Linked DNA regions of Homo sapiens: region 1 is linked to region 2. Evidence: fine-mapped expression QTL. A gene starts in region 2. The other region holds a variant in brackets. All regions are shown on one strand. Distances are between the middles of the regions.

Evidence for each region. PIP is the estimated chance that this variant, and not a neighbour inherited with it, causes the effect.
Region 1: its variant is fine-mapped to the expression of RXFP3 in monocytes after interferon gamma (Fairfax 2014, PIP 0.95).

What each region holds. Positions count from the first base shown.
Region 1 is chr5:33,124,811-33,140,847 of GRCh38, reverse strand. No RefSeq gene overlaps it. Among named protein-coding and RNA genes, the nearest start is that of LINC02160, 97 kb to the left of the region's middle. The variant G/AGAAG (reference allele first, on the strand shown) is at 7,733.
Region 2 is chr5:33,928,463-33,944,105 of GRCh38, reverse strand. It overlaps RXFP3 (relaxin family peptide receptor 3), which reads right to left and starts at 7,720. Exons shown (of 1, transcript NM_016568.3): 1 at 5,188-7,720. The coding sequence starts at 7,365. The coding sequence ends at 5,956. RefSeq lists an enhancer at 12,563-13,068.

The sequences.
Region 1 (16,037 bases), 800 kb after region 2:
AGCTTCCCAGTAAGATCTCAGGAGTTGGGCAAGTGGGCTCAACCATGCTCACTAAAAGGCAAAATGGTAGCGTTTAACTGGTGTATGACCTTTCTTTAGGAATCATACTGGTAAGGGAAAAATACCACAAGTGAGCATGTGTACAACTTCGGTAGACACACTATGCATGAGGCCCCTCCGAAGTGCTAGCAGGCCACTGCACATGTGGACAGCCCACCCTAAGGGAAGAATCAGGGGAGAAGTAATGCAACCCTGGGAGCATGCCAAGACCCCATATCGAAAGTCAGATCACACACTTGAGAGATCAAGTCATCCGCTTGGCCCTTTTCCAAGTGTACTTTACTTCCTTTGGTTCCTGTTCTAAACTTTTTAATAAACTTTCACTCCCACTCTAAAACTTGCCTCAGTCTCTCATTCTGCCTTATGCCCCTGGATGGAATTCTTTCTTTTGAGGAGGCAAGAACTGAGGTTGCTGCAGACCCATACAGATTCACTGCTGATAACACTAACCACCTTATTTGAATGTTCTCATCTGAAAAATCATTCTTACTTCTATTGTAAATTGGCATTTTATGTGCTGGTCTGTAAAAAATCCTTATTGTACTGGCTATGAAGAACTGAGGCTAATATTGACTTCTTAATCAAATTTCTACCCTTCAAGTCACTGCCATAGCAGCCAGCTAGCCTAAGATGACTCTTCTGCCTCTACTTTATAATAATTAGGTATGAGTACTGAGTAAAAAACTAAAATTTATTGAATACTTATTATTTACTATGGTATATGCAATGGACTAAAGGCCTGCATATGCCCAAAATTCATATGCAACCACCAAAATCCTAACCCCAGTGTTATGACATTAGGATGCGGTGCCTTTGGGAGGTAATTAGGTCATGAAGGTAGACTCCTCATGAATGGCATTAGCACCCTATTATAAAAAGGGACCTCAGAGAGCTCTCTTGCCTTCTTTCCACCATGTGAGGGATCAATGAGTTGTTAGCTGTGTGCAACCCAGAAGAGAGCCCTCACCAGAACCTGACCCTGCTGGCGTCTTTATTTTGGACTTGTCATTCTTAAGAAGTGTGAGAAATAAATTTATTTTGCAAGCCACCACATTTATGGTACTTTGTGATAGAAGCCCAAACTAAAATAGCATATAAAGGTTGTATATGCTGTTTCATTAAATTCTCATAATAATCTTGTGAAATATTCTCATTTTACATCCATGGAAACTATGGCAAAGGGAAGACAATTTCAGTGCCCCAGGTAGTAAGTTGTAGAGCTGGGATTTGAACCCATGTCTTTATGACTCCAGAGCCTGTCCTATTTCCATGACAACATGCTTTTCTGACTATTGATTTTATTGACCAATGACCAAAGGATATTTTCATGGTAATTTAATTTACTAGGTCTTTAATTAACACCTAATTTTATTTCATATATTGATAGGCATTGTGGGGAACATGAAAGAATTTAAAGAAATTGCCTCTTTCTTCTGGACTCTTATAATCTAATTTAACAAAAAGGCAGTGCTTGAGCCCCAGAATAACATTCGTGAATTATAAGTGCTGTGGGAAGTCAGAAATCAGTAAATAATTGATATAGATATGAAATACCTCATGGAGGTTAAACAGTTTATACAGAGGGATATTTTAGGCAAAAGATCTAGCATTAATGAGCATATTTGGCTGAGAATGAGTGTAACATATTTAGGAATAGAGAGAAGACAATCCTAGGTAGAGCAGAGGGGATGTAAAATGTAAGAAAGAAAATAGTAGGTCAATAAGTAGTCAGGCAAGACCTCAGCCTTGGAACATCTGATTGATGTCTAAGCTTGAGTTTTCAGTCATTGTAGAAGTACTGAAGGGTATTGTACAGTGCTGATTTTGAAAAAAATATATTTTCTGAAAATTAGCCTGTCAGGAGTATGTGAATAACAAGGAGTCAAAGATAAGAGTTTGGTAAGCAAGGTATCAGAATAGGAAGTCTCAGGCTGTGCTCACCCTCCTCGACACAGAAAGTTCAATGAGCAACTATCTACAGACCATAACATCTTTCTGAAAATTTCAATACTTGGAAACAAGGCTGAGACACCCATGTGGTCCGTGGAATTAAATGATAACTGAATTAGAAAAGTCTCACTTTGGCCGGGCACGGTGGCTCATGCCTGTAATCCCAGCACTTTGGGAGGCCGAGGTGGGCAGATCATGAGGTCAGGAGATCGAGACCATCCTGGCTAACATGGTGAAACCCCGTCTCTACTAAAAAATAGAAAAATTTAGCCAGGCATGGTGGCAGACACCTGTAGTCCCAGCTACTCGGGAGCTGAGGCAGGAGAATGGTGTGAACCCAGGAGGCGGAGCTTGCAGTGAGCTGAGATCACACCACTGCACTCCAGCCTGGGCGACAGAGCAACACTCTGTCTCAAAAAAAGAAAAGAAAAGAAAAGAAAAATCTCACTTCAGCTGTGTCACTACCCCCTCAACCCCCTTGAAGTTGGCACAGTGCCAGACAGAGAAGATTCCCCTGGACCCACAGTTTTTATAGTGGGAAAAAAGAAATGGAGGCAGTCATCCAGTGTCCCTAGCATTCTGAGATGTTTCCTTCGTCATCTTATGGGATACACTGAGGGTAATGACATAGCTAAACTGTTCAAAGTCAAGTAGAAACAAAGAATGAAGGTGGAGCTCACAGTGACCAGTGTGTGGATCTTGGTGGTACCTCCGTGTTCCTACCAATTGTGGCACCCAATTGGAGAGCCCAGCAAGTGCATAGCACACCTGCAAAGCTGAACTGGTTGCTTTCAGAAGCACAGTGAAAAGTTTAACTTTGGCTTGAGTCTCTAGACAACTAGTCTCCACAATCAGCCTCTTGAGACACCCCAACCACTTCACCTGGGCAAGGAGATGCTTGCCTTAGCCCATTCAGAGAAGCTTAGGGGCTAGAAGTGCTTGACCTGCAAGTGCAGAATGGCTCAGTTTAGCCAAAAAGCCCCTGGTGACCCCATTCGGGCAAGGAGATATTAACTTCTTCACATTACAGAGAAGCATAGGGACTAGACCTGCTCAACCTTGGAAATTAAACAACAGTTTGACTCAGTCAAAAGTTCACTCTATGGCTCTGCCTGGACATAGAGGCAATCCCCAATTATGCATTTCTAAGGAGCATAGCCTCAGGTTCCACCCTTCTGGAGTAGCAACTCTGCCTAACCTCAGAGGTCAGGGCCACTGTAGACCTGCCCAGTTGCAGATTCCGAATAATGGAACTGCCCAGCCAGGAAATACATCCTGTGACCAGCCTGACCAGACGCCATCACAGTACCAAGCCAGAAGCTCTGCCTGATAGCAGAGCCCAGCAAGTGATCTCACTGGACAGCTGAGTCCAGCCAGTAGCCCCATCTGACATCAGAGCAAAGACAATAACTCAGCCACCTAGAGAACCCACACAAACTCTTCCTGCCTAAGGTTGTCACCAGCTTGCCATTTTAGAATTTCAGACTACAATAAATAATGAAGACCTATCCCTGCCAAAGAACACCTGTAAAAGTTGGAAGAGGAGGCTCTCTCTTTAAATGCACAGACAACACCACAAGGATTGTGAGGAATCAAGAAATCATGACACTTCTAAGAAATACAGGTCTATAAAATGACTGAAAATGAATTCAGAATAATCCTCTTAAAGAAATTCAGTGAACTACAAGAATATATGGATAGAAAATTAAGTGAAATTTGTAAAACAATACACAAACAAAGCTAGTTCAACAAATAGAAACAATTTTTTTACAAAACTAGAAATCCTAGAGATGAAGAATACAGTGACTAAACTGAAAAAATGCACTAGAAAGCTTCATCAGCAGACTTGACCAAGCAGAAAAAGAATCAATGAGCTTGAAGAAAAAGCATCTGAAATTATTCAGTCAAAGGAGCAGAAAAACAAAAGAATGAAGAAAGCCTGTGGGAATTATTGAACACTATCAAGACACCAAACCTTCGCATAATAGAAGTATCAGAGAAGAAAAAAGAGAGAAAGGGCCAGAAAGCATATTTCTGGAAATAATGGCTGAAAAATTCCTCAATTTGGGGATAGATGCCAACATTCAGGTATAGGAAGTGCAGAAGTCTACAAATTCTACCAGTAATAATCAAAATATCAAAAATCAAAGGCAAAGAATCCTGAGATCAGCAAGAGATAAGATATATAAAGGAGTCTCAATATCACATATAAAGGAGTCTCAATATGACTATCAGCAGATTTCTCAGCAAAAACCCTGCAAGACCGGAGAGAGTGTGATATTATATTCAAAGTGCTAAAGGAGAAACACTGATGACTAAGAATACTTTACATAGTGAAGCTCTCTTTCAGACATGAGGGAGAAATAAAAACTTTAACAGATGAATAAAAACTAAAGGAGTTCATTACCAGTAGATGTGCTTTACAAGAATTGCTAAAGGGAGTTATTTAATCCAAAACAAAAAGCTGCTAATTAAGGACATAAAACAAATGAAAGCACAAAACTGAATGTTAGTAATACAGAGCCATGTTGAGAATACTCTGGGAACATAAAAATGGTGTTTAAAGCAATTTTATCTCTGGCACAAAGGTTAAAATACAAAACTATTAATAAAAGGTGTAGCCAAAATAAATTGTCAAGGGATACACTTTACAAAATGATGTCCATTGTGACATCAAAGATGTAAAATGTGAGGAAGGGGAGTAAAAATGTAGATTATGACATCAAAGTTGATATTAGCTTGAAATAGTCTGTTATAAGTATAATATGTTCTATGTAAGTATCATGGTAAACATAAAGCAAAAATCTTTAGTAGAATCACAAGGAAAAAAAAGAATTCAAAGCATACCACTACATAAAACCATCAAACCATAAAGGAAGACAGCAAGAGATGAAGAAGGAAGTAAAATAACTATAAAACAACCAGAAAACAATTCACAAAATGATAGTAACATGTCCTTACCTATCAATAATGTCCTTGAATGTAATGCATTAAATTCTCCCATAAAAATGCTTGAAGTAACTTAATGGAAAACAGCAACAACAACATGACCCAACTATATGCTGCCTCAAAGGGACTCACCACATTTTTAAGGACACATATACACTGAAAGTGAAGGCATGGAAAAATATTATTCCACCTAAATGGAAACCAAAAGAAAGCGGTAGCTATACTTATATCAGAAAAAAATAGACTTTAAGTCAAAAACTGTAAAAAGAGACAAGGACAGTATATAATGACAAATGGATCAATTCCTCAAGAGGATGTAACAATTGTAAATATATTTGCACCCAATATTGGAGCACCTAAATATATAAAATAAATATTAAAGGATATGAAAGGAGAGATAGATATTATTCAGTACAATAATAGTAGGGGATATTAATGTTCCACTTTCAACAATGGGTAGATCATCCAGACAGAAAATTAATAAGAAAACATTGGACTTGAATAGCACCTTAGACTAATTGGACCTACCAGACTTATACAGAACATTCCATCCAACAGCAACAGAATACACATTCTTCTGAAGTACACATTGGACATTCTCTAGGATAGATAATGAAAGGCCATAAAACAAGTCTTAGCAAATTAAGAAGACTAAAATCATATCAAGTATCTTTTCCAGCCACAATGATATGAAACTAGAAATCAATAACAGGAAGAATTTTAGAAAATTCGCAAATTTATAAAAATTAAACAACATGCTCCTGAATGGACAACAAATTGAATTAAAAGAGAAATTTAAAAATATCTTGAGACAAACCAAAATGGAAATACAACATACCAAAACTTACAAGATACAGAAAAAGCAGTTTTAAGAGGTAAGTTTATAACAATACATGCCTACATCAAAAAAGATATCAAATAAACAACTTAATGTTACTTCTCAAAGAAGTAACATTAGAAAAAGAACAAACTAATCCCGACATTAAAAAGGAAGGAAGTAATAAAGATTGGAGCAGAAATAAATGAAATAGAGATTAGGAAAAAATCTTGTCTGATCTCAGAAGCTAAGAAAGGTTAGTACTTAGGTGGGAGACTAGAAAAACAATACAAAAGATTGATGAAACTAAGAGTTGATTTTTGGGAAAGATAAGTGAAATTGAAAAACCTACATCTAGACCAAGAAAAAAGAAAAAGACTCAAATAAATACAATCATAAATGAAAGAGGAGATATTGCAACTTATACCAGAGAAATACAAAGGGTCACAAATGATGATTATGAACAATTATACACAGATTATCTAACCTAGAAAAAATGGTTAAATTCATAGACATGTATGCCCTACCATGAATGATAAAGAAATAGAAAATCTGAACCTACCAATAATAAGTAAGAAGATTGAATCAGTAATACAAAGTCTTCCATCAAAGAAAAGACCAGGACCTATGGCTTCACTGCTGAATTCTACCAAATGATTAAAGAAGAATTAGCACCAATCCTTCTCAAACACTTAGAAAAAATTGGAGAGGATGGAATACTTCCAGACTTTTTAATGAAGCTAGCATTACCCTGATACTAAAGCAGAAAAGAACATTACAAGAAAAGAAATTACATAAATTTAATATTTTCTATAAATTTTGATGCAAAAATCTTCAACAAAATACTAGCAAATCAAATTCAACAATACATTAAAAGAATCATTTGCCATGATCAAGTGTGATTTTCCCCAGTATACAAAAATGGTTCAACATACACAAATCAATAAATGTGACACACCACATTAACAGAATGAAGGACAAAAAGAAAGCCACCAAAAATCATCTCATTTGATACAGAAAAAGAAACTGACAAAGTTTAACATCCTTTGATGATAAAAAATCTCATCAAATTAGGTATAGAAGGAATGTACCTCAACACAATAAAGGCTGTATATAATAAGCCCACAGCTAACATACTCAACAGTGAAAAATTAAAAGCCTTTTTTCTAAGATCTGGAAAAAGATAGGGATGCCCACTTGTGGCACTTGTATTTAACATAGTGTTGGAAGTCTTTGCCTAAGCAATTAGGCAAAAGAAAGAAATAAAATGTATTCAAATAGGAAAGGAAGTGAAATTGTTACTTTTTGCTGACAACATGATCTTATCTATAGAAAACCTGAAGATTCCACCACAAAACTATTAGGACTAATACACAAATACAGTAAAGTTTCAGGATACAAAATCAACACACAAAAATTAGTAATATTTCTATACACTAACAATGAACTACTTAAAAAAGAAATCAAGAGAACAATCTCATTTACAATAGCCATAAAAAATGTTACTTAGAAATAAGTTTAACCAAGGAAGTGAAAGACCTGTATGCCGAACCCTTTAAAACATTGATTAAAGAAATTGAAGAGGCCAGGCATGGTGGCTCACACCTGTAATCCCAGCACTTTGGGAGGCCAAGGCGGGTGGATCACTTGAGGCCAGGAGTTAGAGACCAGCCTCGCCAACATGGCGAAACCCCATCTCTACTAAAAATACAAAAATTAGCTGGGTATGGTGGCAGGCACCTGTAACACCAGCTACTTGGGAGGCTGAGGCAGGGTAATTGCTCAAACCTAGAGGGTAGAGGCTGCAGTGAGCCAAGATCACACCACTGCACTCCAGCCTGAGTGACAGTGTGAGACTCCATCTCAAAAAAATAAATGAAAGAAAGAAAGAAAGAGAGAAAGAAAGAAAGAGAGAAAGAAAAGAAACAAGAAAGAAAGAAAGAAAGAAAGAAAGAA[G/AGAAG]GAAAGAAAGAAAGAAAGAAAGAAAGAAAGAAAGAAAAAGAAATTTGAGAAAACACAAATGGAAAGATATCCCTGTACTCATGGATTAGAAGAATTATTGTTAAAATGTCCAGCCAAAGCAACCTATAGATTTAATGCAATCTTTATCAAAATTCCAATGTTATTTTTCCTACAAATAGAAAACAATTATGTATTGGTCTGTTTTCATGCTGCTGATAAAGACATATCTCAGACTGGGCGATTTACAAAAGAAAGAGGTTTATTTGACTTACAGTTCCACGTGGCTGGGGAAGCCTCACGTTCGTGGCAGAAGGTGAAAGGCACGTAACACATGGCAGCATACAAGAGAAAAGGGCTTGTGCAGGGAGACTCCTGTTTTTAAAACCATCAGATCTCCTGAGACGTATTCGCTGTCATGAGAACAGCACAGGAAAGACCTGCCTGTATGATTCAGTTACCTCCCAAGAGGTCCCTCCCACAATATGTGGGAATTCAAGATGAGATTTGAGTGGGGACACAGCCAAACCATATCATTCTTCCCCTGGCCCCTCCCAAATCTTATGTCCTCACATTTCAAAATTAATCATGCCTTCCCAACAGTCCCCCAAAGTCTTAACTCATTTCAGCATTAACGCAGGAGTCCACAGTTCAAAGTCTCATCTGAGACACATCAAGTTCCTTCTGACTATGAGCCTGTAAAATCAAAAGCATTTTAGTTACTTTCTAGATGCAGTGTGAGTACAGGCATTGAGTAAATACACCCATTACAAATGGGATAAATGGGCCAAAACAAAGGGGCTACAGGCCCCATGCAAGTCTAGAATTCATCAGGGCAGTCAAATTAAGCTCCAAATGATCTCCTTTGACTTCATGTATTACATGCAGGTCATGCTGATGTAAGAGGTGGGTTCCCATGGTCTTGGGCAGCTCTGTCCCTATGGCTTTTCAGGGTACAGCCTCCCTCCCAGCTGCTTTCACAGGCTGGCACTGAGTGTCTGAGGCTTTTCTAGGCACACAGTGCAAGCTGTTGGTGGATCCACCATTCTGGGGTGTGGAGGATGGTGGCCCTCTTCTCACAGCTCCATTAGATGGTGCCCCAGTAGGGACTCTGTGTGAGGGATACAACCCCACATTTCCCTTCCACACTGCCCTACCAGAGGTTCTCCATGAGGGCCCCACCCCCTCAGCAAACTTTTGCCTGGGCATCCAGGTGTTTCCATATACCTTCTGAAATCTAGGTGGAAGTTCCCAAACCCCAGTTCTTTACTTCTGTGCACTTGCAGGCTCAATACCACATGGAAGCTGCCAAGGCTTGAGGCTTGCACCCTCTGAAGCCATGGCCCAAGCTCTACATTGGACCCCTTCAGACACAGCTGTAGCAGCTGGGACGTGGGGTACCAAGTCCCTAGTCTGCACACAGCATGGGGACCTTGGGCCCAGCCCACAAAACCATTTTTTCTTCCTAAGTCTCTGAGCCTGTGATGGGAGTGGCTGCTGCAAAGGTCTCTGACATGCCCTAGAGACATTTTCCCCATTATCTTGGTGATTAACATTCAGCTCTTTGTTATTTATGCAAATTTCTGTAGCTAGCTTGAATTTCTTCTCGGAAAATGGGATTTTCTTTTCTATCGCATTGTCAGGCTGCAAATTTTCCTAACTCTTATGCTCTGTTTCACTTTTAAAACTGAATGCTCTTAACAGCACCCAAGTCACCTCTTGAATGCTTTGCTGCTTAGAAATTCCTTCCACCAGATAACCTAAATCATCCCTCTCAAGTTCAAAGTTTGACAAATCTCTACGGCAGGGGCAAAATGCTGCCAGTCTCTTTGCTAAAACATAACAAGAATAATGTTTGCTCCAGTTCCCAACAAGTTCCTCATCTCCATCTGAGACCACCTCAGCCTGGATTTTATTGTCCATATAGCTATTAGCATTTTGGGCAAAGCCATTCAACAAGTCTCTAGAAAGTTCCAAACTTTCCCTTCTTCATCTGAGCCCTCCAAACTGTTCCATCCTCTTCCTGTTACCTAGTTCCAAAGTCGCTTCCACATTTTCAGGTATCTTTTCAGCAGCATCCCATTCTACTGGTACCAATTTACTGTATTAGTCTGTTTTCATGCTGCTGATAAAGACATACCCAAGACTGGGCAATTTACAAAAGAAAGAGGTTTATTGGACTTACAAATTCTATATGGCTGGGGAGGCCTCACAATCATGGTGGAAGGTGAAAGGCATGTCTCACATGGTGGCATAGAAGAAGAGAGAGCTTGTGGAGGGAGACTCCCGTTTTTACAACCGTCAGATCTCATGACATGTATTAACTATCACAAGAACAGCATGGGAAAGACCTGCCCCCATGATTCAGTTACCTCCTGCAACATGGGAATTCAAGATGAGATTTGGGTGAGGACACAGCCAAACCATATCAAATTCTAAAATGCATATGAAAGTATAAAAAAACCAAATAGCCAAAGTAATCATGAGCAAAAGGAAAAAAACTGGAGGTATCACACCACCTGATATCAAACTATACTACAAAGCTATAGTAATTAAAACAGCATGGTACTGGCATAAAAATAGACACATTGACCAATGAAATAGAATAGAGTTCATAAATGAATCCATGCATGTATATACCTAATGCTAGATGACGAGTTAGTGGGTGCAGCGCACCAGCATGGTGCATGTATACATATGTAACTAACCTGCACAATGTGCACATGTACCCTAAAACTTAAAGTATAATTTAAAAAACTTACAATAAAATTTTTCTAAAAATAGGAGTTTTATTTGGGCCAGAGATGCCAGCCAACAGTTAATGGGACACATTCCAAGGTTAGAGCAGTGCTATGCTGACCTTGAGAGCTGCACTTGCAGCCAGGCTTGGTGGCTCACGCCTGTAATCCCAGCACTTTAGGAGGCCGAGGCAGGCAGATCACCTGAGGTCAGGAGTTCGAGACCAGCCTGACCAACATGGAGAAACCCTGTCTCTACTAAAAATACAAAATTAGCCGGGCATGGTGGTGCATGCCTGTAATCCCAGCTAAGATTCGGGAGGCTGAGGCAGGAGAATCACTTGAATCCGGGAGGCAGAGGTTGCAGAGAGCCAAGATCGTGCCACTGCACTCCAGCCTGGACGACAGAGCGAGACTCCATCTAAAACAAAAAAAGAGAGAGCTGCACTTGCACAGACAGCCTTTCTGCTTCCATTCATCAGTTGGAGATATTCTGCCTCTGGCCACTGTTTGGATCTGTGGCACTGCCCTGTGCAAACCATAATGAGGGAGGTAGAGAGTTTACAGATGCATTTGTTCAAGGAATTTATCCCTCTTAAGCAAGCAGTTTGTTTAGTGAGTTTTGGCATGGTCCTGTTGTAAAGAGCCAGGCTCCTTTAGCACTTAAAGTATTTTGGAGGAAAGGTGCTATGCAAATTGAATTGATGCTATTTATGACTGCTTTGGTTTTTCTGTAAGTGTCTGGAATGTCTACTCAGAGATTACCAACTTGAGGGCTCAGAAGGCATGCCCAAGAGACCTTGCCACAAGTGGCAGTTCTATCAATATCCAGTTGTGTAAAACGGCAAGATTTTGTGACTGTTGGGAAAGCTAGTGCTATTTATACCATATAAAAGATTGCTCAAGGTCATCCCTCTTACACCAGCTTTAGTAAATTCAGTGTGACGTGTGGTTTTCCTCAATTGTTGATGAAATGTCTCCTTTGGGGACACTCACCAGCAAAGGATAAAGTTCAAACTTTTAAACTGGTATTCAGTGTTGTCTGTGACTCTTCTTTTAGTCTCTGTTTACTACTTACCTACACGAACCTCCTGCTCTGATCAAACAGCGCTACTCACCATTGCCCAACTTTCCACTTTCTCACCAGTGTGTTTTTGTTCACCCCCATCTTCTCCTCCCACACTTCTCCTCCCTAATCCCTCCTTCTTGACCATACCAAAAACTCAGTATCCTCTATTTAAATCCTATATGCCTTTTACGAGGCAGTATAATTTCTGGTCCTCCGTGAGGACAGCTGCAGAGAAATTATAGATGACCTACTGTTTATTCATGTAGTTGGCATTTTCAATTTAGATTATGTTTTGCATTTAAAAAAATGTTTTTAGATTTTAAACTCCTAAAGGGCAAGAACGGACTCTATAACTCTGCATACAACCAAGAGCCCTGTGTAATTAAGAACTCAAAAGTTAATGCTTTTAATGTCACTGATATTATGAAGATAAATAGAGGAATGCAATAGGGAGAGTTGTTAATTACTTACTCCTAGAAATTTACTCTATAATTTTTAAGAAAAATTTATGTTGACCCAGATTCCCCCGAAGAATTTGTATAGATGTGTGAACTTTGTTATCACTAGTGTGCCTTATCAAGGGTGGCTGCTTTTGTGGGGAGGAGTGAAGCTCAGTAAGGCCTGCTGAATGGGATTCTCAGACTTAACATTAATGATCTTTCCCCTAGACATAGAAAAATTATGTTCCTGAGTAAAGATCACTTTTCCACAAATGTGGAAAGTTACCACTTTACCCCTAGAAATCTATGGGTAGCTAGTAATGTGTTCCTGTTTGTCTGCCTGATATTATAATTTGATGTCTAGCTCAACAGTTGTGGCAACATTGTGATTGCTTTTTTTTTTTTTTTTTTTTTGGATTTCCCAGAGGCATCTTTATTTGGCAGAATGACGGATTAGTTTTTCTTATTTTTTTTTCTTTTTTTTTTTTATTATACTTTAAGTTTTAGGGAACATGTGCACATTGTGCAGGTTAGTTAAATATGTATACATGTGCCATGCTGGTGCGCTGCACCCACTAACTCATCATCTAGCCTTAGGTATATCTCCCAATGCTATCCCTCCCCGCTCCCCCGACCCCACCACAGTCCCCAGAGTGTGATATTCCCCTTCATGTGTCCATGTGATCTCATTGTTCAATTCCCACCTATGAGTGAGAATATGCAGTGTTTGGTTTTTTGTTCTTGCGATAGTTTACTGAGAATGATGATTTCCAATTTCATCCATGTCCCTACAAAGGACATGAACTCATCATTTTTTATGGCTGCATAGTATTCCATGGTGTATATGTGCCACATTTTCTTAATCCAGTCTATCATTGTTGGACATTTGGGTTGGTTCCAAGTCTTTGCTATTGTGAATAATGCCGCAATAAACATACGTGTGCATGTGTCTTTATAGCAGCATGATTTATAGTCATTTGGGTATATACCCAGTAATGGGATGGCTGGGTCAAATGGTATTTCTAGTTCTAGATCTCTGAGGAATCGCCACACTGACTTCCACAATGGTTGAACTAGTTTACAGTCCCACCAACAGTGTAAAAGTGTTCCTATTTCTCCACATCCTCTCCAGCACCTGTTGTTTCCTGACTTTTTAATGATTGCCATTCTAACTGGTGTGAGATGATATCTCATAGTGGTTTTGATTTGCATTTCTCTGATGGCCAGTGATGCGGAGCATTTAATCATGTGTTTTTTGGCTGCATAAATGTCTTCTTTTGAGAAGTGTCTGTTCATGTCCTTCACCCACTTTTTGATGGGGTTGTTTGTTTTTTTCTTGTAAATTTGTTTGAGTTCATTGTAGATTCTGGATATTAGCCCTTTGTCAGATGAGTAGGTTGTGAAAATTTTCTCCCATGTTGTAGGTTGCCTGTTCACTCTGATGGTAGTTTCTTTTGCTGTGCAGAAGCTCTTTAGTTTAATTAGATCCCATTTGTCAATTTTGGCTTTTGTTGCCATTGCTTTTGGTGTTTTGGATATGAAGTCCTTGCCCATGCCTATGTCCTGAATGGTAATGCCTAGGTTTTCTTCTAGGGTTTTTATGGTTTTAGGTCTAAAGTTTAAATCTTTAATCCATCTTGAATTGATTTTTGTATAAGGTGTAAGGAAGGGATCCAGTTTCAGCTTTCTACATATGGCTAGCCAGTTTTCCCAGCACCATTTATTAAATAGGGAATCCTTTCCCCATTGCTTGTTTTTCTCAGGTTTGTCAAAGATCTGATAGTTGTACGTATGCGGCGTTATTTCTGAGGGCTCTGTTCTGTTCCATTGATCTATATCTCTGTTTTGGTACCAGTACCATGCTATTTTGGTTACTGTAGCCTTGTAGTATAGTTTGAAGTCAGGTAGTGTGATGCCTCCAGCTTTGTTCTTTTGGCTTAGGATTGACTTGGCGATGCGGGCTCTTTTTTGGTTCCATATGAACTTTAAAGTAGTTTTTCCCAATTCTGTGAAGAAAGTCATTGGTAGCTTGATGGGGATGGCATTGAATCTGTAAATTACCTTGGGCAGTATGGCCATTTTCACGATATTGATTCTTCCTACCCATGAGCATGGAATGTTCTTCCATTTGTTTGTATCCTCTTTTATTTTCTTGAGCAGTGGTTTGTAGTTCTCCTTGAAGAGGTGCTTCACATCCCTTGTAACTTGGATTCCTAGGTATTTTATTCTCTTTGAAGCAATTGTGAATGGGAGTTCACTCATGATTTGGCTCTCTGTTTGTCTGTTGTTGGTGTATAAGAATGCTTGTGATTTTTGTACATTGATTTTGTATCCTGAGACTTTGCTGAAGTTGCTTATCAGCTTAAGGAGATTTTGGGCTGAGACAATGGGGTTTTCTAGATAAACAATCATGTCGTCTGCAAACAGGGACAATTTGACTTCCTCTTTTCCTAATTGAATACCCTTTATTTCCTTCTCCTGCCTGATTGCCCTGGCCAGAACTTCCAACACTATGTTGAATAGGAGCAGTGAGAGAGGGCATCCCTGTCTTGTGCCAGTTTTCAAAGGGAATGCTTCCAGTTTTTGCCCATTCAGTATGATATTGGCTGTGGGTTTGTCATAGATAGCTCTTATTATTTTGAAATACGTCCCATCAATACCTAATTTATTGAGAGTTTTTAGCATGAAGGGTTGTTGAATTTTGTCAAAGGCTTTTTCTGCATCTATTGAGATAATCATGTGGTTTTTGTCTTTGGCTCTGTTTATATGCTGGATTACATTTATTGATTTGCGTATATTGAACCAGCCTTGCATCCCAGGGATGAAGCCCACTTGGTCATGGTGGATAAGCTTTTTGATGTGCTGCTGGATTCGGTTTGCCAGTATTTTATTGAGGATTTTTGCATCAATGTTCATCAAGGATATTGGTCTAAAATTCTCTTTTTTGGTTGTGTCTCTGTCCTGCTTTGGTATCAGAATGATGCTGGCCTCATAAAATGAGTTAGGGAGGATTCCCTCTTTTTCTATTGATTGGAATAGTTTCAGAAGGAATGGTACCAGTTCCTCCTTGTACCTCTGGTAGAATTCGGCTGTGAATCCATCTGGTCCTGGACTCTTTTTGGTTGGTAAACTATTGATTATTGCCCCAATTTCAGCTCCTGTTATTGGTCTATTCAGAGATTCAACTTATTCCTGGTTTAGTCTTGGGAGAGTGTATGTGTCGAGGAATGTATCTATTTCTTCTAGATTTTCTAGTTTATTTGCGTAGAGGTGTTTGTAGTATTCTCTTATGGTATTTCTGTGGGATCAGTGGTGATATCCCCTTTATCATTTTTTATTGTGTCTATTTGATTCTTCTCTCTTTTTTTCTTTATTAGTCTTGCTAGCGGTCTATCAATTTTGTTGATCCTTTCAAAAAACCAGCTCCTGGATTCATTGATTTTTTGAAGGGTTTTTTGTGTCTCTATTTCCTTCAGTTCTGCTCTGATTTTAGTTATTTCTTGCCGTCTGCTAGCTTTTGAATGTGTTTGCTCTTGCTTTTCTAGTTCTTTTAATTGTGACATTAGGGTGTCAATTTTGGATCTTTCCTGCTTTCTCTTGTGGGCATTTAGTGCTATAAATTTTCCTCTACACACTGCTTTGAATGCATCCCAGAGATTCTGGTATGTTGTGTCTTTGTTCTCGTTGGTTTCAAAGAACATCTTTATTTCTGCCTTCATTTCGTTATGTACCCAGTAGTCATTCAGGAGCAGGTTGTTCAGTTTCCATGTAGTTGAGCGGCTTTGAGTGAGATTCTTAATCCTGAGTTCTAGTTTGATTGCACTGTGGTCTGAGAGATAGTTTGTTATAATTTCTGTTCTTTTACATTTGCTGAGGAGAGCTTTACTTCCAAGTATGTGGTCAATTTTGGAATAGGTGTGGTGTGGTGCTGAAAAAAATGTATATTCTGTTGATTTGGGGTGGAGAGTTCTGTAGATGTCTATTAGGTCCGCTTGGTACAGAGCTGAGTTCAATTCCTGGGTATCCTTTTTGACTTTCTGTCTCGTTGATCTGTCTAATGT
Region 2 (15,643 bases):
GCAAGGGGTAAGTGTGGGTGGCAGCATCTCGGTGCAAGGGTGGAAGAGGCAGGAGCTGCTTTTCACAGGGCATTACAAATCTTGCTGAGACCTCAGAAGCAGACTAATTCCATATACAATGCTTGGATGTGTTCTGTGAAGTGATTTGATTTTTTTTTTTTAGCCAGGGGTCCATATATATTGGGGAATCATATATTTCATCAAATTCACAAATATTCAAAATATTGCTAATGATTTATTCTCTATTAATTTATTCATAATTTGCTCATAATTAATTCCTATTACTTTATGATACCCCTGACAAGTCTACTCAAACATCTCATGCTGGAGAATTCACCACTTTAAAATAGTTCATTTCATTGACACAGTAAAAATATTTCTCTCTAGTCTGCACCCTTGTTTCGTCCTCTGGATTTGATGTGAAAGTCTTTCCAAAAAACAGCCCCCTGTTTCTCCTATGATCTTCTTTTCTCCAAGCTAAGCAGTTTTTCTCTAACCACACCCCTTCAACTGCCCCATGATGAGGTTTTCAGCAGCCTTGAGAGACAGCATGGTTTAATAAAAATCGTGTTTTGGAATCAGCTGGTTTTAAATCCTGGCTTTGCCACTCAGCAGTAAACTATGTAATCTCCCCAAGGCACACTTGCTCATCTATACATTTGGGATAAGAATTGCTATCTCAGAGAGTTGTGATGATTAATAATATGTAACATTGGTTCAGGCATGGTGGCTTATACCTGTAATCCCAGCACTTTAGGAGACCGAGGCAGGGGGATACCTTGAGGCCAGGAGTTCGAGACGAGCTTGGGAAACATAGGGAGACCCTCTCTCTACAAAAAATATTTTAAAAATTAGCTGGGCATAGTGGTGCATGCCTGTAGTCCCAACTATTGGGGAAGATGAAGTGGGAGAATTGCTTGAGCCTGGGTGATCGAGGCTGTAGTGAGCTGTGATTTTGTCACTGCACTCCACCCTGGGAGACAAAGCGAGTCCTGGTCTCAAAACAAACAAACGAACAAACCACAAAACACAAACCATGACATTTATGGAGTCTTTACCACTATTCTAAATGCTTTAACGTTAACACAGCAATTGTGGGAGTGGGTGCTGTTACCACTCTCCATTTTTTAGATAAAGAAATGGAGGCAGAAAGATATAACTTATCTGAAACCACACAATTCTTAAGTGACAGAGCTGGGCTTTGAACCCAGTCACTTTGGTTCCGTTGCTTCCTGTATGGACAGCACTTAGCCTGGTGTCTGGCACATGAATGGAGGCATGTGATCCACAGCCCATCCCTCTTCACTGCTTCCCCCACTCCTCTCTCTACCTAGGCAGTGTAGAGTCCTTGTGTGCATGCTGGCGTCAGCACATCCATAGCCTCCCACCTGCCTCCACCCTCTATCGCTCCTGCAAACGACCACCCTTAGCCACTTAAGGGTGGACAGACTCAGTGGCATGGAATTCCCTCTGGAGGATAGACTCAAGAAAGAACCCATGGATTCCTTGTAAATAGACTCAGGGCCATTTGGACAAGAGATTCCAAGGTCTCACGTACCCAAGCATAATCTAGGAGGTGGGAGGACTAGGGGGGCACAGATTCCAGAAGGTCCTGTGCAATCCTTGCCATGTGGGGAGGGGCAGGGGAAGAGCAGGGTCTCCTCTAATGATGACACCCAGACCAGGGGCCCTGGCTGCCCAGGGCTAAGGACCGTATCTACTGAAGTTGGCCAGCCTAGGAGCAAAGAGCCATTTGTTGTCATTCTGTGCTGCAGCCTCCTTCTCCTTCCCAGCCTCCCCAAGTGTCTTATAAGGCAGTGGCATCCCTGATATCTCACACGCGCTTTCCTCCTGCTGCTGCTGCTTGGGCTTCCACTTTGTTGCTTCAATTCTACCATTACCTCCTTTGTGTTTAAAGAACCCACTCTCTGCAGCTACCTGGTTCTTATACCTGTGACTGAGGCAGTGCTGGGGTGTGGAGCAAGGCATCTGAAATGCCCCTGTGAGTCTGGCCACTTCTGGTGTATATGTTGGGGGGAACAATAGAGGGCAGGGGTTTATGCTAAAGTGGCCACTTCTTCCTGCCCCCTGCTCAACCTCGTCACCTGCAGGGCATGCAGCTTCCTTATCCAGGCTCCTGCAGTGTGTCTGTCCCATTCTCTCCAGATCACTGGTGCTTTCCAGACCCAGCTAGGCTGTCTTCTCTGGCTTGAGCATGCTCTTTTACTTATCACCCTCCAAGCCTTGCTCCCTTCTCATTTTCTGCTTCCCAATCAGGTCCTCCTGTATTCTATTAGTACATTCACTCCCAAATGAAATAATCTCTTTCTTTTTACAGAATATATACAAAATTACCCCTTCTTCTCTACTCCACCCTCCCATCCCCCTGCCATTATCCATCCTGGAGAAATAAGTTAATGACTCATTTAGAGAGGCCACGAGGGAAAACACCTGCTCCCAACCCCATTGTGTGGGATGAGGATGGGTAAATGTTCAGAGGACTTCATGGCACATAACTCTTGGCATTAGGAAAGAAACAGCGACAAGCCACCTGTCTTATCTCCCTTACCTGTACTTGGCCTCTGCAAGGTTTAGAAATGGAATCCTCTCCAGGGTTCAGTGTTTATTTCCTGTCCGTTTCTCCAAAAACTGTTCTGATGTGTGAAGATTTGGAAATGAATAGATGGGCCAGCTGGAAAGGTGACCCACAGCTAAGGGCCATCTTATTGAACCCCCAAGAAGTCAAATGTAGTCATCCCTAACCAACCACAGGGCACTTGTGCGCGCGCACACACACACACACACACAAATATGCAAATACTCATTGAACTCAACTCCCTTGAGGTTTGAATGAATAAATATAATCCAATTTTCAAAGTCTTTAACCACATTTGGGAATCTAAGTATTTGTTCTCAGTATACCAATGACATATTCTTTCTGGCAAAAGAAATTTCCTTTCCCCAGACAAATAAAACTAGTACAAGGACGCATACTCTCAACAGAAATCCTGGGAAATCCTGCAAGAGAAAGAGAATCCCTACTACTTTGTTTCCTGCTTCCCTAACCAAGCATCCGACATTCCAACATCAAAGCTTTTAGTCACCACATTTTATTAGCGTTGAATATCCTCTCTACCTCCGAACCAACCCCTGCCATTCTGCCTAAACTGTGCCCATATATTTAGACCTGTCTCAAATATTATTTTGACCAGAAAGTCTGACCTCCCAGCAGGATCAACTTTTCCTTCCTTTGTCTTTCTTTCTTTCAGCCTTACTTTGACATTCAGCTGATCATTCCCTGTCTTATCTTGCTTGTGCTCACCGCTGTCTGTCCTTTTACGTGTGGAGGTCAGAAACGTGTCTGGTTCGTGTACATCACCTCAGCACCCTGCACAGGGGATGGCACAAAACAGCCACTCAAAAAGTAATTGTTGATTACAATTGATCTGACCATTTCCTTTGGTGACCCTTTTGTCTTTGTGGTAGACCAAAGTCATGATCTTTGATCCCTCCTGCCATGTTCTCAGAAGCCTTGTGCTTGGGATTTGGACAAAGTGACCCTTTTTATAGAGGTTATTTTTTTCCCATTCCTCCAGCTCCTTCTTTGCTGTTTTTCTAGTGCCCATAGTAGCAGATGCACATACTTCAACACCCTTTCCTAAAAATTCTGAGCTACCCATACATTATTTTATTGTTAAATTGAAATGGAAATTTGCTTTGATAAGAATCTCTCAGTAAGAGTCTATTATCCGTGTTATAGATGTATCTCCTACCGTGCAAATGTTAGTTTTCTCCTGTGTTTACTTTTTCATGTATTTTGTATTTTGGGGACCTTTGTGGAGCTTACATTTCAGTCTTTGTTAGCCTAATTGCTATTCAATATCTATATCAATAATTGTTCTTCCCAAAGGGTGAAGAAAAAAATGGACTACTTCAAAACAAACACACCATTCAGTTTTCTAAAAGAGCTGACTTCACAAGACTGCTCAGAATCGCGACTGGCAGCTTCTGCCTTTGTGGGAAGGCATGAGTGTTTAGTCATTTCACTGTGTTTTGCAATCACAGAAAGCAGATCAGGGAAGGTGGGAGTTGTAGATCTCACATTTTGAGCCCTGAATCTCAGATACTGCAGAAAACTTTCAACGACATCACTAAACAATTCTACCGTTCAAGAGGCTCTTTAAACAGACCTGTTTTTACGAATGGCTATTTTTTATATTAAACCAACCACCCTGGTGGGTGCCTGCATCATTGGTTTTTTGGCCCCAAACCAGGTTGCCGAAGAGAGTAGCAGTACCTCTATGAAAGCCAGCAGAGGGGTAGGTAGACTGATGTTTGATCCCAGTTCTTAGAAGAGCCTCAAGAAAGGACTTTGTGAGGGTTTAACATCTTAAGCTCCTGTGATCAAAACAGAGTCAACATGAGAAATGTGAGGCGGTCTTCAGAGACAGCTCCATAAACTGTCTGGAGGCTGGGAAAGAATTTGTCATGCATGCTTAATATGTAAAGCACTCTTTAGAATAAATGGAAATTGGTGATGGTAATGTCCGATGGGAATTACTATTTCCTACCTTCTCTTGTCAATAATATAAGCAATAAAAAAGCCCACAACTGAAATTCTGATGATACCCTCAGAACAGTTTCCCCAGTACTCTGCTCGCTTTAGAACATGGTACCTGAACCTTCTATTTTCTTTCCTACCCCACACCTCTGTTTGAGAGATCCGACCCAGCTTCTAGGAATTTGGTTTCCAAGATTCCACTTCCCCCCGCCCCCCGCCCCAATTCCCCTTGCACATTTCTGCGGTATTTCTTCCTCTTCTATCTAAGCCTACCAGAAAAAAATTAATAATAAAATAAATACTGAACCATCCCTCTACTCGCTGGTCCAGGGCCTCAATCAAAGGAACAGCTTGATTCCCAAAGCGTGGGAAGGGAGGAACTGAAGAAGTGCCCCCACTCCTCCCAGTAGAGCTATTCAAGATGCCTCCGGGCCCAGCTCACCGGCAGCACGCAGACTGCTCTCAGAGGAACTGGAGCGCCCGAGCTTCCTGCGCGCAACGCGCCAGCGCTCCACTTCCAACTCTGCTACCAAGTGAGCATATGAGCCCCCTTTTACCTTTTGGGGCAGCAGCCTGAAGAAATTTCCCTGTCCAGCCCTTCTAATCACACTGTGTCTCCTCCCTCCCGCAGCGACGACACTCCCCAGAGAATGGCTCTCCCAAGCTGGTGACAGGTGTTATCCCCCTGCTAACGTCTGAGCTCCGGGGCTGTGCAGCTAGGTCGGGCTCAGGGTGTTCCCGCTGGCCCAGTCCGGAATGATAATTGTCATAATGACTCCATTGGAGGTGGCTTTCCTTTGCCGTTTCTCCTGTGGGCGGACCAGGATGGTCAGTTCTTTTTCTTAACTCCAAAAGCGTTTCTTGCCTACCAGCTCTAGATTCCTGGGGCAGCCCCGCAGCAAGTAGGACCTTGGCGCTGCTGCAGTCTCGTTTGCCAAGACGCAAAGGAGTGTTTGTGCCGACGGCTGCCCTCTCCGCAGAAGTCGCTGGAATAAACGGGCACAATTGTCTGTGCATCATTTGGCTAAGCCCCGCTCCCCGTGCCAATTTCTCTACATTTTTGCTGCTTGTCTTCGCTTCTGGGCGCCCCCACACTACTCAGCGTGGGAAGAGTAAGGAGAGGCTGTGGGGTGCGGAGCGGAGGTTGGCTGTCTGGCCCGTGGGGCTCGTCTCTATCCCTTTGCCAATTTCCTCTCTCCACCCGATTTCGAAGCATCTCCTCTCCAGAGAAGGTCCTCGGCCTATCCACAGGCTCCTCCTCCATGCTCTGCCCATCCTCCTCCCACCTACTTCTTAAATGGGGCCCCCCCCAGCCCTCCTTCATCCTTTCACCTCTTTACCGCCCGGGGAAGGCCACCTTGCCCCGACGGCGCGCCCTGGGCCTGAGGCCTGCGTCAGTAGGCAGAGCTGCTGGGCAGCAGGTCGTAGCGCCCCCCGCTGTAGACCACGACGCCAGGTGGGTAGTAGAGCAGGTCCGGCTCCGCGGCCGCGTGGGGCGGCGCCGGGGCCTGCAGCCCCTGATCCTCGTGCTCCGGCTTGGTAGTGGCGGTGAAGGGGCGCATGCTGGTGATCGAAGGAGACGCGATGCGCCACAGCAGGCTCTTGAGCGCCTTGCGGAACTCGCGGCGCACGAGGCAGTAGAGGACGGGGTTGAGGCAGCTGTTGGAGTGCGCTAGGCACACGCTCACAGGGAACGCGTATACCTGGCACAGGAAATACTCCTGGCTGAAGGGCACCGCGTTGAACTTGATGAGGATGCTCCAGGTGGTGAGCGCCTGGTTGGGCAGCCAACACAGGAAGAAGGACAGGACAACGATGGTCACTGATTTGGTGACCTTCGACAGTCTCCGGGCGCTGGCTCCGGTCGGGCGTCCTCCGGCTACCGCGGCCCCTCCTTTGGTCCCCGCCGCGCGGCGGTCGGCGATGAAGCGCACCAGCAGCAGGTAGCACAAGATAATGATGCCCAGCGGCAGCACGAAGCCCAGCAGCACCTTCTGCGAGTGGTAGAGGCCCAGCCAGAACTGCCTGTCGCGGCCCAGCAACTTGTCCGGGAAACGCACCAGGCACAGCTCCTCGCCCATCACCTTGACCGTGGTGGAGAAAATGGCACTGGGCAGCGAGGCCAGCGCGGCCAAAGCCCAGATCCACACACACAGCGCCTTGGCCGAGAAGCAGCAGCTGTCCCCCAGGCTCCGGCCGCAGCAGTCGCCCCGGCCGTGTCCTCGGGTCCGGTGGCTCTTCAGAGCCGAGGCCACCGAATGGTAGCGCGTCACACTCATGGCAGTGAGGAAGAACACGCTGGCGTACATGTTCATGGACGTCACCATGGACACGATCTTACACATGGCCTTGCCGAAGGGCCATTTGAAGTCAAGAGCGTTCTCCACCGCCCAGAAGGGCAGGGTGAGCACAAACTGAAAGTCCGTCAGCGCCAGGTTGGTGACGAAGAGGTTGATAGAGGACTTGCGCCAGCCCTGCATGCTCTTCATCAGGTAGAGAACCAGCAGGTTGCCCGCCAACCCCAGGGCGCACACCACCCAGTACACCACGCTGATGAGAATCCGCACCCGGGCCTCTGTGTCCGCGCTCTCTGCCCCGCCGCTGCCCGGGGGATGTCCTGGCGGCGCGCCGTCCGGCAACTCCAGCCCCAGCTCCCACCACAAGTCCGGAAGCTGCAGCGACGCGTTACCACTCGTGTTGGCCGCCTCCAGAAGGTCCGGGACCAGACTGAAGAGTTCTGCTAGCTTGTCCCCGCCTGCTGCCTTATTCATGGTGGCTATCGTGGCTGCATCGGCCATCTGCATGCGCAGGTACCTCTAGGTCATGTTCTGGGGGACAAGACCTAAGATAACACGGTTTACCCCAGTTTTGTTGCCAGGCTAGCCTGCGGGACGTGCGTGGGAGCTTTCAAAGCAGCTACTGAAGAGAGAGCCCAGGAACTGGGTACTAAGCGCGTCCTGGCGCGCAGCGAACGCCCTGGACGCAGGAGTTGAGCTCAGCGGCTGCTTTGGAGCAGAGTTGAGGAGTGCAGCCCGTAAGGCAAGCACTCGGCGTCCAAGGGTTCTCAGGCCAAGCTCGGAGTCCCTAGGTCCTTATGTACAACGCAGACTTCCCCTCTCCGTGTCCCGCGGTCACTGGGGCACTGGCGCATAACTCCCCCAGCCGCTCAATTGTGCGATTTGGGGCCGCTCGCTCCCTTTCAAATACCTTTATCCGTTTCCTCTGGGACTGCTTGGATGAGGTTTCCGTCCTTGGAGAGAAAGAGATCGTAGAGTTCCATCCACCACGCTCAGCTTCCTGGAGGTCAGTGGGTGTCTGCGTCTCTCCGCGGTTGTCAACTCCGGGTGGGTTGCCAGCGGCTCTCACCAGTTACGGTGGCACTTGCACGGCCAAGGCGGCGGGCCCCAAGGAGCATGCGTAATCCCGGGGCGCCGCGAGGGGCGCTTTCCGAGGTGCTGAACCCAGCCGCGCCCGCGCCGCGAGGGAGAGTTGAGCTGCAGGCAAAGCCCACCCGCCACTCCAGTTTTCCTCTCCAGAGTTTCAGCAGGAAGGGTCTTAAGAGTTTATTTTACAGCTGCAGGAGAAAGTCGGCTTTGACGTGAGTTTCTTCTTCCTTTCTTATTCCCAAACATTATGATTAGAAGTTTTTTTTTTCTTTCTTCCTCACTCCCACTTTTCACCGGAATTATTCCATTTGGTGAGGAATTGTTCTAAAAATATGAGCTATCCTGCTTACTTTCCTTCTTGAAAGTAATAACAGTGGCCTCTTTTCATGCTCAAATGAGATAATGGGTACTTATTGGATACACAAAGGACAGCTCCACCTCCCCTCTTTAATTAGCTGACCACTTACGCAGTACCTGTGTTTGTCAGGATTTTCAAAGGGTCTTCACATGGCAGAAGTCTGGGCTCAAGGGTTGCCCCTACTTTAATGTATTCTGAGAGGTGACACAAAAACAGAGCAAACAACTGATGGTCCTACTTCACAGAAATTAAATGCCCTAAGCCCAAAGCGCTTCAACAAATTGTTTGATCACATACAGGCCACAGTCTCTTTACCTAGATGCAAATAGAATAGAGGATACCACTGGGCTGATCGTGAACCACCAGCCCTCCTATTTCCATTACTGTTAGCATCAGGACTCTTTTTCAGGCGTTTTTCAGACCAATGGAAGTACATTCTAAGGACTCTTCCAAGGGAATGAGTGGAAACCACTTGAATTACTTCTCAAGCTTCAGTCTACATAAATGCCAGGTCAATCGCTCTGGTGTAAATTACACTTTTAGGATTTACTTTAAAATTTTGAAATGTTTTCCTCTTGGTCTGGGACTAAACTGAAACCAAAGTTTCTTAAGCATAATTGTCCTCACTCCTGGAGTACTACAGAACTCCCAGCTTTACTTAAGGAGATAAAGAGGATGCAACCTTCAAGCTGAGGAGATAAGAAACAGAAAAAGAAAGAAAGAGAAAAACGAAAAAGAAAGAAAGAAAGAAAGAAAGAAAGAAAGAAAGAAAGAAAGAAAAGAAAAGAAAGAGAAAAAGGAAAAAAGAAAAAAAAAGAAACAAGAAACAATCTTGATTCCAAAGGACTTTTAGCCCTGAAGAGCACACACCTTGCTACGGATGCTGCACAGCTCCGTCTTCCCACTAGAGGGAGTAAGGGCTTTAGTAAAAACCTAGCCAAACACAAACATCTCCTTTGATCAGTTCTTACCTGGAGATCACCCCTGCCCTGAGGATTCCTCCCAAAGCACAGGTTATTTCTATGGATGACTATTATCCTGGTTTTAGTAGCCTCACTTTCACACTCAGTTTTGACTTTATTTTTAACTGGTTATTTCTCCATCAATTTTCTCTCTCTCTTCATCTATGTCTCTATTTCTCTTTTCTAATATTTCAAGGGGCTGTTGAAACACAAGAAAAGCTGGGGCATACCCTGAAAGCTCTCTGCTGTTAAATTTTTGGTATGTTCACACCAATGACCTCCATCTAACACATACACAGCTTCTCAGTGCTTCTAGGCACACCCAGGAATATATCTACTTGGTCTGCTCCAAATCACATGTACATATTCATACTTTATGAAAAAATTATAGGGGCCTGATTCAATTCATCTCACATTCATTGGCCACTTACTCTTGCCAGGCACTGAGATAGGCTGAAAGACATAAGTCCTCTATTTTGAGCGTCTCTGGAATTCTTAATCTAGATGAGTGTGCAATCTACTAGTGTCTAAAACTATATTTTTTGTTTAGTTTTGTGCATGACTAAGTTATCTAGAATGTAATGATTCATGCCAGATAAGTGGACAATAATTTTACCTCTTTTATTATTTCCCTTTTTTTTTAAGGGGTGGGTAGGTAATAAATAGTTATACCTTGATGGGATATTCCAGTTTTAGGTTTTTTGGGAGGGGGTACTCTATGTTGGTATTTAAAGAAACCATAAAGGAGGAAGGGTGCAGAGCTTGTTATGTTACATATGTGGTCTGTTTTTCTGTTCCTCTTCTTACCAAAATTGAAACCAGGCTGTGATGGGGGCCTGGAGGAAAATCAGCATCAAGAAACTGTCTCTCATTCACAGTGGCAGGGTATGGGATCTTGAAACCTTTTTCTGGGCTTCTTTTGTGTTCCTGAAGCCATGTGGGCCATGCGAAGCCATGAGGACAGCATAAAATCATACTCTAGCATGTAACCATTGGGAGCCCATGATCATAGAAGGGAAGAAATCACCTGCTTTGGTCCAGCATTTTGCGGAGGAGGCTTGAAGAAATGAAGGTATTTACCAAGAATCTCACCACTAGGAAGGAGCCACACCCGGTCTAAAACATAGTCTTGACTCTTAAGTGATGTCTCTTGATCTATGCTCCATTTTCCAATTTGGATCTAAGTCTTCCATATTGTTTTTCAACACAGGGGTGGGTGGTAGGCTGAATAATGCCTCCCCCCACACACAAATATGTCCACATCCCATTTCCCAAGCCCTTGGATGTTACTTTATACAGCCAAAGGAACTTTGCAGCCACTAGAAGCTTAACTAAGCAAAAAGATGGATTCTCTCCTAAAGCCTCAAGAAGGAAACAGCTCTTCTGACATCTTGGCTTTACTCTAGTGAAACTGATTTTGAATCTCTGATCTCCAGAACTGTGAGAGAATAAATGTACCTTCTTTTAAGCCACAACATTTCTGCCCATGTGTTATAATAGCAATAGAAACTAGCATAGGGTGGGTACACAGCCTGGCTTGAACATAACCTAATGGGAAATGGAGCAATTCTGATTTGAACATGTTGGTTAATCTTAACACCGACTTTGTGCTAGACACTGTGTCATGTACTAGAGATTTAGTGGTACCAGAACTCACATTCTAATAGATGAGAGAGACCTTTTAAAAATTTGAATTCTGGGTTGGGCACACTGTCTCATGTCTGTAATTCCAGCACTTTGGGGTGCTGAGGCAGGCAGATCACTTAAGGTCAGGAGTTCAAGACCAGCCTAGCCAACATGGTGAAACCCCGTCTCTACTAAAAATACAAAAATTAGCTGTGTGTAGTGGCACATGCCTGTAGTCCCAGCTACTCTGGAGGCTGAGCCAGGAGACTTGCTTGAGCCCAGGAGGTGGGGGTTGCAATGAGCTGAGATCACATGGCTGGACTCCAGCCTGGGCAACAGAGCAAGACGCCATTTCAAAAAAAAAAAAAAAATTCTAATAAATTGTATTATTATAATTACAATAAGAAAAAAACAGAGTAAAATAGAAAGTTACAAAACCATGTGCAAGTAACTAACTTTTAACTATTTACAAGCATATTTATCTAATTCTAAGATTCACATCTTATCAAATTAAAGATTTTTAAGATCAATATGGATTTCCAATTGCTATATACCTATTTAGTGAATAATTTTTTTCTCTAGAAAGCTGTAAACAAAAGGTGTGTCTTATAAGCTATAGTATCTTGGAAGAAAGGAAATTCTATAATCAGGTAAATGGGGGTGAGGTGGGGGTAAGGAAAGGGGAAGAAAGAGGACTCTGGGCAGAAGGAACAGCCTGAGTGAAGGCACTGGGCAGGAAAGAGCATGATGCTTTTGTAGGACAGAAAGAAGATGAAGTGCCTATAACACAGGGAGATGAAGTAAATAGTGCTAGATAGTCTGGTGACATGGGCAGGTGTCAAACAATTTCCGACTGCAGAATTTTGATCTATGACTTTGGAGTAATGGAGGACATTGGAAAATTTGAAGCAGGGGAGCAACACAATCAGTTTCGCATATTCAAACCATCACTCTAGATATAGTGTGATGAGTAGACTGGAAGGGGCGGAGCTGATATAAATCAAGACAATTAGGAAGCTACATCAATAGTTCAGGAGAGAGATGATTGTACTTTAATCTAGAGGGATGCGGGGCAGAATAAGATTTAAATAGGCATTTAAGACACTGACTTGACAGTACTTGGGGGTGGACTGCATACAAAGAAAGGGTGAAGGTAAGGACAAATTAAAAGCTTTCAAGTTTTTACCCTGAGCATGTGGGTAGGTAGGCATGCTGAGCAAGTGAGGTGGGGGAAGATGACACATTCAGGCTGGACATATGAGAGTGTGAATGCCCCAATCAGATTTAGATGTCAAAAAGACAGTTGAATACATGAATCAGTGACTCAGAGAAGATAAAAATATGTGGGTCTGCAGTGTATAGATTATAATTGAAGCTTTGACATTGATGAGACTGTCTAGAGAAAAAGTGTAGAGTGAGAAGAAATCTCTTGTTAAACCTGGGGGAAATCTGAGATTGGACTGTCTGGTAGAGGTTGGAAAGCCTGTTGATGATAATTGCTACATGTATATTTAATGAATATTCTCACTGTTTATGACAATGAGAATTAGAGCTAGAAAAGAGGAAAACTAGGAGCCTGTGACATGTGAACCCCGAAAATCCGAGACGGGTCTCAGTTAATTTAGAAAGTTTATTTTGCCAGGGTTGAGGACACGAGCCCATGACACAGCCTCAGGAGGTCCTGATGACATGTGCCCAAGGTGGTTGGGGCACAGCTTGGTTATATACATTTTAGGGAGACATAAGACGTCAATCAATATATGTAAGAAGTACATTGGTTCAGTCTGGAAAGGCGGGACAACTTGAAGCAAAGGCAGGAAGACTCGAAGCGGGGGAGAGAGCTTCCAGGTCACAGAAGGTGATATGCAAAGGGCTACATTCTTTTGAGTTTCTGATTAGCCTTTCCAAAGGAGGAAAATCAGGTATGCGTCTATCTCAGTGAACAGAGAGGTGACTTTGAATAGAATGGGAGGCAGATTTGCTCCAAGCAGTTTCCAGCTTGAGTTTTCTTCAGTAATTTTGGGGGCCCAAGATACTTTCCTTTCACACATGGAAGCCAAGAAATAAAAGAAATGTAGGGGAAAAAAAGCAGGGGCTGTATTTAATGCTGTGTCTAATGTGAGGCCAAGGAAGGCAGGAAAGGAGAAATGTTCATTGGATTTATGGACATGGAGACCATTGAAAACCTTGGGGCACTATTTCGGGAGGCAGATACTGGGAGAGGAGATACCAATGAAACTAGAAAGCTATTCTCATTGACTTCTAGCAACCAAAGAAACTGAGTCAACAGGAGAGACAAAAGTTTGTTTCAGTTCAACTGGCAAGTCAGTGACAGAATTAGAAAGGGATTCAGAGATATTGACTAACATTTCACCCTTTGGTTTGTTAATTGACGCTTTAATTGAGTCAATTGACTCTTTAATTGAGTCGATTAACTGCCTAACAAATCAAAGAGTTTGAGCCTTTGGGGTCCTCAGGCACCACTGCTAATCTAAGCAGTCACTTTAGTCTAAATTAAAATTTCTCAACCTTGAAACTATTGACATTTTAGGCCATATAATTCATTGTTATGTGGGAGGGGCTGCATTGTATGATTATTATTTACTAGCATTTCTGGCCTCTACTTGTTAGATACCAGTAGCAATCCCAGATGTTGTCTTGTCAGACAACCAAAACTGTCTCCAAACATTGCCAGACATACCCTGGAGGCAAATATCTCTTCCTTCCCCAAGGTTGCAAACCACTGGGCTAAACATGAACCATTTGTTAGAAAGGGAAATGGCAGGAGACTGTGAAAGAATCTTTTGTTACTCATTCTCACTTCTAGGAAAACAATTCAAGGGACCTCCCCTTTAGGTGGGAGTTGGAAGGGTGTATAGAGAACAACAGCATGTTACATTTTTGTATGCTACATACACACCCCTCCGAGCATTGGTGCAATGCATCCTTTTCACTGGAAATCCCCATCCTTTCTCTAGATGCTCTTCAGTTAAGCTAAAGCAGAGCTTGCTAATTTCTTTTAAATAGATGAGCAGACCTGCCTTGGGAAACTTCAGAGGCTCTCGCTCATACATTATGGTTAAGACTTCCCTGACATTGCCTAGATGGAAGAGAAGTTCAGGAAACCCGGACCTTGGCACATTGGCAGTTCTGATGTCCACCCACAGTGGAATGGTTTAGTCCTGTGGCTACTGGATGCCGCCTCCATCACCACCGTGCTAAAGAAGGCTCTGGCTCACTCAGGGGCCTGCTCCATAGCCTGAGGACATTGTGCTGCTGGTCCTCCCGAGCCCATTCTGCAAGTGAAGGAAACTACAAACAGACACGGGTTGTACCTTTGGAACTTTGTGTTCAGATGTCTCCCAACTAAGATTCAGGTTAGACTTCTCCAACAGGCATTCTAATTTAATAGGGATTTGAATGTTGGAAAGAGAAGCCCAGGGATAGGGCATTCTTATTTGGAAGTGAGAAATCTGAGGTCTGACACTAAGTAACCAGATAACGATACCCCAGTCAAATGACAGTGTAGAAGCCAAGTCTCACCAAACACAGGCCTCCATAACAACTCTTTCAGTACTGAGTGGTTAAGTTAAATACGAAAAGCCAGTGGCTTTATACAAAGGCTGGTATGTAACAAAAGCCCATCAAGAGTTTTATCTAGGCCTTTCCTGGGCCTTAAAGCATGACAAAATAAAGAAGGAATTCTTAACAGGACCCATTTAGGATGAAACAAGTTTTATCGTGGGGCTGAAGAAACTCCCCAGGCCTCAAACAAGTTCGTTGGGGGGTCTGAAGAAACTCCTCAAGCCTCCGTAATTTAGCAGGAGACAAGATAAGGGTAATCACGCCAGCACCTGGATCCATTTAGATTAAGTAAATTTACTGAGGCTCCAGAGAAAGGTCTTCAAGACTCAGACCGTAGTTATAGATTAAAAGAAGTTAATCACTTATGTCTTTAGATGAATGCACACTTACAAGTAGACATACAGCTTAGAAGGTTTATAAACTCTGGAAAACTTTGTAATTTTGAATAGGTCTGGCGATAATTTCCAGGCCTACTCCCTGTAACCGGCTACAGAAATAAAAACTCTCTTCTTCCCCAGTTCATCTGCATCTCATTATTGGGCCATGAGAAATAGAAGCCCGACCCTCAGTTTGGTCCTGGAACAATGCTTCTGGGTCTCAGGTTCCTCATCTATATAACGAAGGAATTGAGGTTCTTGAATATTCTAAGATAGACACTGAATCGGTGACATCAGAATCAACTAGAGCTTGCTAAAAAATACGGGTTGCATCGCTCTTCAGACCCCAGATTCTGATTCTCAGTGGATTGGAAAGGAGCCCAGGAATCTACATTTCAAACATTCTTCCAGGTGATACTATTTTTTTTTCAAGTTTGAGAACCTCTGGACTAAATTTTATTCTAGTTCTAACACTCTATGTAAACAAATTTTAAATCTCAAAGAATTAATCTGCAATGATGGTTTATCATACACTGCGATTGGAAGTAAAAGACATACAGAGAAGGGGATATTGAAGCCTGACAGGTGATATCTCTTCATTGTTGGACTATGAGGGTCATGTGCTCTGGAGGTACATCAGGCCATGAGTACCAACCAACATGAGACCCAAGCTGAAACTGAAACTGCCTTTGAAAAATTATAAATGAGGAAATTATGACTTTGAAAGAGATCAGACCTAACTGACCCCATCTTGCTTCTATCTTTTAAGCTGTCCTTGCTCACTCCTG